Linked DNA regions of Homo sapiens. The protein of the gene in region 1 interacts with the protein of each later gene in a pairwise test. Each region holds a gene or a part of one and is shown on either strand. Other genes may lie near its edges.

What was found.
Region 2: the proteins of CDH7 (region 1) and FGF21 interact in a two-hybrid assay, tested with the Homo sapiens proteins (one large-scale study listed by BioGRID and IntAct).

Annotation. Positions count from the first base shown.
Region 1 is NC_000018.10:65,749,512-65,753,111, reverse strand, and holds the start of CDH7 (cadherin-7 isoform 1 preproprotein), read right to left. Parts: upstream 2,101-3,600; 5' UTR 1,962-2,100; exon of another isoform or gene 1,160-1,961; intron 1-1,159. UniProt on the Homo sapiens protein: Cadherins are calcium-dependent cell adhesion proteins. They preferentially interact with themselves in a homophilic manner in connecting cells; cadherins may thus contribute to the sorting of heterogeneous cell types.
Region 2 is NC_000019.10:48,753,884-48,757,995, reverse strand, and holds the start of FGF21 (fibroblast growth factor 21 precursor), read right to left. Parts: upstream 2,473-4,112; 5' UTR 2,212-2,472; intron 2,106-2,211; 5' UTR 1,760-2,105; coding exon 1,525-1,759; intron 1,071-1,524; coding exon 967-1,070; intron 67-966; coding exon 1-66. UniProt on the Homo sapiens protein: Stimulates glucose uptake in differentiated adipocytes via the induction of glucose transporter SLC2A1/GLUT1 expression (but not SLC2A4/GLUT4 expression). Activity requires the presence of KLB. Regulates systemic glucose homeostasis and insulin sensitivity.

The DNA.
Region 1 (3,600 bases):
CCGCGTGCTCTCCACCCTCTCTTCTTCATTGGACACTAAACACTAGAGTCAATTCAAGGGTAAATTGCAGTAATATAGATGCTTTACAATTATCCTTTTATAAGAAAGGAAAAAGCTCTGTGCTATTAAATCAATAAAAGTAGACTTAAGAAGACTTGTGAGTCTGTAAAGTGATTAACACAATTCTAATGACCTCTTGCAGCCCTTAATTACAATAATATCTCACGTTGTAAGTGCACAATGCCCTTTTATTAAAGCTGCAAACCTTAATAGCTTTTAGCAGGGTGATGGTCTGTGCTACTGATTATTGTTTTCTTTATTTTTCTTTCCTCAGACAGACTCGGCTAGCTTTCCCAGATAAGACTATTGACGTTGGATGTTACCTAATTGCTCTGCTATCCCACTCCATATTAAACACTAACACAGAAGCAAGACTTCCACAAAGTTGCCAGTCTTCCTACCTGTCTCAATTCTTTTGCATTTTAATTCATACTGTTCAAAATAGCCTTAAAAATAAAGAAAAGGATTCTTCATGCATTTCCCCTTGACATATAGAACAAGAAAATATCCTAGGTAAACCAAAGTCTAACTAGTTCTTTAGGAAAGAAGTAATTCTTGGTGAGTTACTGAACGCTTCAAATGTAATTAATTTTTTTTCTTAGCTCTTTTCTCCCATAACAATTTGCCTTTATAAAGACTCTCTTAAAACTATTTAGATATTGTGTCTATGCAAACTTTCCTTTAGAAAAAAAGACTGCTACTGCTCTTAAACTCTTAAAATACACATTTTTTGTGTGAGGTGTTATCTGCTTTTAAAAATACATACTTGTCACTTGGCAAGGGCCATATATTAACAAGTCACTTACATTTTTCTCTTATTTTTTGTATAAAGTTATGTTTATCTACTTCTCTATGAAAAATGATCTGAACACCTGTCTAGTAGCTACAGAAATTATGAGGACAAGTCTTACGTAAAGGTCTCACTTAATAAACGATCTAATAGAGACAAGATATTTATTGCAAAGCAAAAGATGTTATAAGTACATTCCTCGTTCAATTTGCAGATCTCCAAAGCCTTGATACACCCAATCCTTGATGGTTTCTCAATAGTTTGCCATTTGCCCAGTGCTGGGTGAACTCATTGCCAATCTTTACTCACCTGAACTATGACATTTAAGAAATCCGTAGGGTTAACGATCTAAAACGTGAAGCGGTACAGAATAACGGGTCTTTTCTCATTAATCCACACTGGAAGGTTGAATACCGGCAAGTAGCAGTGTACCATGTGCACCCATGAAGAAGTCCACCATGCATTCAGAGAAGCAGGGCGCCCTTTTCCCAGCGCACACTTAAGGTACTGCCAGGCGGAGGGGACGCAGGATGCAGATGAACCAGATCAGCAGAATACTAATTACAGGGGAAAAAAGCAAAGCACCCTGAAGTGAGCTCCACCTTCACGAAAGGTAAAAGGTGTCCAGAGCGAATGGTTCAAAGGACTCCTGCCCAAAGCGGCGCATACCCCCTTCCAGCCTCAGACCTCTGCAGAACCCGGCGGCACAGCCGGCGCGGAGTTGTGCCCCCATCAGTCCGAGGTTGAGGGAGGAGCCTGCTTGTGGTCCTCTTTGAGGAGAGTGCTCCAGCCTGCCCATGTTTGCCGCTGCACCTGGAGAGTGCCGGGATTTGCTCTTACCCTCAACTACTACTCCTCGTGTCGCACCTGGTGTCTGTCAACACCGGCTTTCCGGGCCAAACGCCCCCGCCTCCGTCCACAAGCCTGTCCTGCCTTGCAGAGCCACATCTCACTGCAACACGCAGTAACTTGGGGACGCCAAGGGAAACTCCACACGGACATCCCCGCCCGCTCTCCGCTCACTGATTAGTCCTGCTTCCAAAGGCGCACAGCAAGGGCGCACATCTGCCCAGCGGCGCCTCCCCAGCCCCGCGCAGGCAGACACACTCACCTGGGGCCTCGCTGCCCTCCCCACGGCGTCAGACGCCAGGGACCCGGGCGTGTGCATCCGAAAGAACGTGCGCTCGGCTGCCGGACGCCCGCGGGCTCTTGGGGACCCAGTGCGCGCAGCTCCGCGCGCGGGGCAGACTGGAGGAACCGGCTCGACACCCGCTCGGGCCCGCCCGGCACGGGCTCCTCCTCCAATCACAGCCCACTCCGCGGTGCGCGGGGACCCTGCCCCGGCCTCGGGCGCCGGGGGCCCGCTGCGTCTGCTCACTGCGAGGGGCCCCTCCGGCTCGCCCGGGCAGCTGAGACGCAGGGTCCGGAGCCAGCGGGAGCGCGCGGCCAGAGAGAGGGCGAGAGGGCGCGCAGGAGAGGAGGAGAGAGCGCGCCGGAGCCGGGGCCGAAGAGGGAGGGGAAGAGGGCGACGATGGTGGGCGGCGGGCGCCTGCTGTCAGCGCTGTCGGAGGCCGGCCCAGGGAGCCACTGAGACTTCGGCGCCTCCCAGAGACCCGGTGGGGGCTACTGGAAAAGAACGCGAAGACGGAGCCGCTCGGCCGCCACGCGCGCACACACACACGCGCGCACCCTCGCGCACCCTCCTCCACCTCCCGCCTGGCGGATCTGTACAGATGGATTCCTTCGCAGGAAAATAAAGAAGAGGGGTGAAAGTAGGAGGGGCTGCAGCCCATCCATCTCTCCGTGAGGCATTTGCATCTGAAAGCACGGAGCTGGAGGAGAGTTTTGAGGGTATTTTCAAGCTGCCCCTCCAACACCCACCTTAGCCTGTCGTGAAAGCCGTGATCAGTTGAGCTCCTGAGGCATGAAGGCAAAGTCATAAAACTAATCAGAACTTACAGTTTTCTTGCTTGATAGTTTTGCCCTTTCAATCTCCTCGGACTGCCCTAGTTCTACTTTTTTTTTTTTTTTTTTTTTAACTTGCAGACAATTTTCTCCCCTGCTGGGCTCTCTAATGCTAAACTTCCAAAGTGTATGATTTACTCGCAGTGCGGGACAGAGGACCCTTGCAAGGTGTGGAAGGAAGGAAAGAAGGAAGGAAGAGGATCTGGTCTTTTCTTTAGAGCGCGGTGCAGCCCCTGGAGTTGAGCACGCTTTGTTTTCCCCTGCTCTGGTGCTCGCTTTAATCTGATGACTGGGTGTTCTGTCATAGGGGTTAGGAGGGGGAAGAGATCATTTCCAACTACCTTCCTTTCATTTTTCTCACTCTACCAATGGAAAGTGTCCTCTTTCTCTTACGCACTTATTCTTACTTAACCTTAGCAGTAATTCTTCGGATACCAGTTACATGGGCTTAGGCTTGTCCGTACCATTATCTCTGATTTCTTGTGCAGTCAAGCACACTTTTCTGTCCCCAGTCCAGCCTCTCCTGGCTATTTAACTGGCGCCATGCCTCCCCCACCTCGCCCATTCAATTTAGTCAATGTTTAAAACCGAATTCTATGCTAATAATTCTGACAGCAATTATGGACTCCTGTTAAGTTCCAGATACCATCCTATGTTGCTTACCTAACATTAATGCATTTTAAAAGTTCTAACTCCAACCCCAAAGCTCCCCAGATCCAGGGCTGCTTGGATGACCATTTCATGGTCCATTTCCACTCAGCTGTCAGCCATCACCCAAATTCAAG
Region 2 (4,112 bases), on another chromosome or scaffold:
GTAAACATTGTATCCGTCCTCAAGAAGCAGCTCCCGGAAGCTGCAGGCCTCAGGGTCAAAGTGGAGCTAGGGGACAAAAACAGGATCAGAGACAGGGTTCCTCTGTTTTCCTGATGTAAGACCCAGGATCCAGGCCCCAGCCCTGCCTCCCTCAGACCCAGGGGTCCAGGCCCCCAGCGCCTCCTCCCTCAGACCCAGGGGTCCAGACCCTAGTTTCTCCTCCATCCGACCCAGGAGTCCAGGCCCCCAGCGCCTCCTCCCTCAGACCCGGGGTTCCAGGCCCCAGCCTCTCCTCCCTCAGACCCGGGGTTCCAGGCCCCAGCCTCTCCTCCCTCAGACCCGGGGTTCCAGGCCCCAGCCCCTCCTCCCTCAGACCCAGGGGTCCAGGCCCCCAGCCCCTCCTCCCTCAGACCCAGGAGTCCAGGCCCCCAGCCCCTCCTCTAGGAAACAAAACAGCAAGGCAGGTTTTGTTTTTTACCCCAGGGCTCTCCTGCAGGGACCTGCCTCCCAGTTCAGACTTCACAGAGAACATTCCAGCCCTCGGAGCCATCAGTGCTCTCTCAGGCCAGGCGGGGTGTCTCCCTAGCACTCAAGGTCCTGGTCACTTTACTGGCCATGGCTTCCCCGAGTGTCCCTGTGCCCAGCATGAGCCGTGCACACAGGGGCCGTGTGGGCAGGAGCAGGGGTTACTGAATCACGAGACTCCCAATAACCTGAGCCTCAGGCCGCTCCAGCATCCACACATCACATGATTGAGGTCACTGGCGCCCCGGCCTGGGCCTCAGTTTCCTCATCTTGCAAACACTGATGACAACTTCAACCTCCAAATGTTGCAGCTGGGGGCGTGCAGAGCAAATAGAATCAAGTCTGGCTCCGGGGGGGATGAGCAAGACAAGGCACCCCAGGCTGTGAGGGCGACATATAGGAGGAGCATGGTGGGTGGTGAGGAGGGTCCTGGAAACTCACCGATCCATACAGGGCCCCATCTGGCCGCTGGCACAGGAACCTGGATGTCTTGACTCCCAAGATTTGAATAACTCCCGGCTTCAAGGCTTTCAGCTGCAGGAGACCTAAGGGGTGAAAGCGATAAGGTGGTTCGAGGACCTCTCCCACCCGGGACTGTCCCACCACCCGACTCTGTCCCACCATCCGGCTCTGTCCCAGCCCTGGGAGTCCAAGCCCACAGCCTACCTCCTCCCTCAGACCCAGGAGAAGCCCAAGCCAAAGCCCCCTCCCAACTCAGACCCAAGAGTCCAGGACCCCAGCCCTTCCTCCTTCAAACCCAAGAGTCCAGACCCCCAGCCCCTCCTCCCTCAGACCCAGGGGTCCAGACCCAGCCCCTCCTCCCTCAGACCCAGGGGCCCAGATCCCCAGCCCCTCCTCCCTCAGACCCAGGAGTCCAGATCCCCAGCCCCTCCTCCCTCAGACCCAGGGGCCAAGGCCCCCAGCCCCTCCTCCCTCAGACCCAGGAATCCAGACCCACAGCCCCTCCTCCCTCAGACCCAGGCTCTGGCCCACACTCACTTTCGGGGCTCTGGTCAGCAGCGCCCCCCACCGTCCCATCCTCCCTGATCTCCAGGTGGGCTTCTGTCTGCTGGGCATCATCTGTGTAGAGGTACCGCTGCCGGACTTGGCCCCCGAATTGCAGGAGAGGACTGGAGTCAGGGATGGGGTGTGCCTGGCAGGCTCCCAGCAGAAGACCAGCCAGCACAGAAACCCACAGTCCTGAGTGCTCGAACCCGGTCTCGTCCGAGTCCATCAATGGCTCGGGTCCTCAGGTGATCTCCGGGGTGTGAGCTCGGAGAAGCTGAGTGGTTTAGAATTGGTGCCAGATTCCAGTTGTCCAGGTGAGTAGACTCAGGTGGCCTGAGTGCCTGGCTCCTCTTTCGGCTGGATCCTCAGCTGACAGAACACCCTTGTTTTTTGGGATAGATGCAGAAGCTCCAGAATTTATACCCAGACAGGCCCGCCCAATCACCCTCCCTGCGCCTGAACCATGATATTTGACCCATTTGGCAGGAGCTACAGAATTCCATCGTGGCAAGGGCAGCCTGAATGGATGATGTAACCTGGGGTCCTTTCAATGGAGGGCCAGACTCCTGGGTCTAGGGGATGAGGGAGGGGAGGATCGGGTTAGCTGGGACCCAGGTGAAAGGGGCTGGGGGCCCACATTCCTGAGTCTCAGAGAGAAGGATCTGGGGTCTCAAGCACCTGAGTCGGAGGGAGGAGGGGTGCTGGGCTCCTGGAAAAACCACCTCTTGGACCATCTATGCAGATCACGCAGAACAAGAGAAATTTCTGCGCCCCATCTGAATTTCTAAGTTTGGGGGGAGGGCGTGATCTGACACTGAGGTTCCTTGATCCTCAGCAAGGCGGCAATTGCTGTATGAAAGAAGCGACCGCATCTGAGACACAAGTATCCTGCCTTGGAAGCCTCTCACCTGGCCGTGGGCCAACCTCAACCTCATCTGTCCCTGCTCAGATGCTCAGACCCTGGACATCCCAGCCTCCTCCTCCCTGATGCAATCCTGGTGTTTCTTTCACCAGAGAAGCCATCCCAGGCCCAGGCAGGTGCTCCTGAAATAACCTGGGGGGAGGGGTGGCTGAAAGTCCCTGACTGGAGTTGGCAGCCAAGCCAGGCCCTGGAGTGGGCACCCAGAGGGAAGACAGGTTGGCTAATTTCCTGGAGCCCCTAAGGGTGCAAGGGTAGGCCTTCTGTGTCTGAGGGAGGAGGGCTGGGGCTCTGGACTCCTGGGTCTGAGGGAGGAGGGGTGGGGGGCCTGGACTCCTGGGTCTGAGGGAGGAGGGTCTGGGCCTGTACTCCTGGATCTGAGGGAGGAGGGGCTGGGGAACTTGGGCTCCTGGGTCTGAGGGAGGAGGGAGCTTTGGTCTGGACTCCTGGGTCTGAGGGAGTAGGGGCTAGGGATCTGGACTCGTGGGTGTGAGGAAGGAGGGGCTGGGGTCCTGGACTCCTGGGTCTGAGGAAGGAGGGGCAGGGGGCTTGGACTCCTGGGTCTGAGGAAGGAGGGGCCGGGAGCCTGGACTCCTAAGTCTGAGGGAGGAGGGTCTGGGGGCCTGGACTGCTGGGTGTGAGCAGAAGGGTCTGGGTGCTGGGAGTCCCGAGCCTGGGGAGATGATGGTTAAACTTCTGGGAATCAAGTCAAACTCCTGAGTCTTTGACATTGATGTATCTTGAATGGGAGGGTCAGTCTGTGGGGAAGGATTACCCAGGTGCCGAGGCAAGAGACTGAAGGCACAAACTGTTTCAGTATAATAAAGAAAATAGTTAGAATAAGAATAGTTATCATACAAATTAGATATAGAGATGATCATGGACAGTATCAATCATTAGTGTAAACATTATTAATCATTAGCTATTACTTTTATTCTTTGTTGTATAACTAATATAACCAGGAAACAACCGGTGGGTATAGGGTCAGGTACTGAAGGGACATTGTGAGAAGTGACCTAGAAGGCAAGAGGTGAGCCTTCTGTCACACCGGCATAAGGGCCTCTTGAGGGCTCCTTGGTCAAGCGGGAACGCCAGTGTCTGGGAAGGCACCCGTTACTCAGCAGACCACGAAAGGGAATCTCCTTTTCTTGGAGGAGTCAGGGAACACTCTGCTCCACCAGCTTCTTGTGGGAGGCTGGGTATTATCTAGGCCTGCCCGCAGTCATCCTGCTGTGCTGTGCTTCAATGGTCACGCTCCTTGTCCTCTTGCATTTTCCTCCCGTACTCCTGGTTCCTCTTTGAAGTTCGTAGTAGATAGCGGTAGAAGAAATAGTGAAAGCCTTTTTTTTTTTTTTTTTGAGGCGGAGTCTCGCTCTGTCCCCCAGGCTGGAGTGCAGTGGCGTGATCTCGGCTCACTGCAATCTCCGCCTCCTGGGTTCACACCATTCTCCTGCCTCACCCTCCCAAATAGCTAGGACTACAGGCGCCCTCCACCACGCGCCCGGATAATTTTTTGTATTTTTAGTAGAGACAGGGTTTCACCGTGTTAGCCAGGATGGCCTCCACCTCCTGACCTTGTGATCCGCCCGCCTCAGCCTCCCAAAGTGCTGGGATTACAGGCGTGAGCCACCGCGCCCGCCCGAAATAGTGAAAGTCTTAA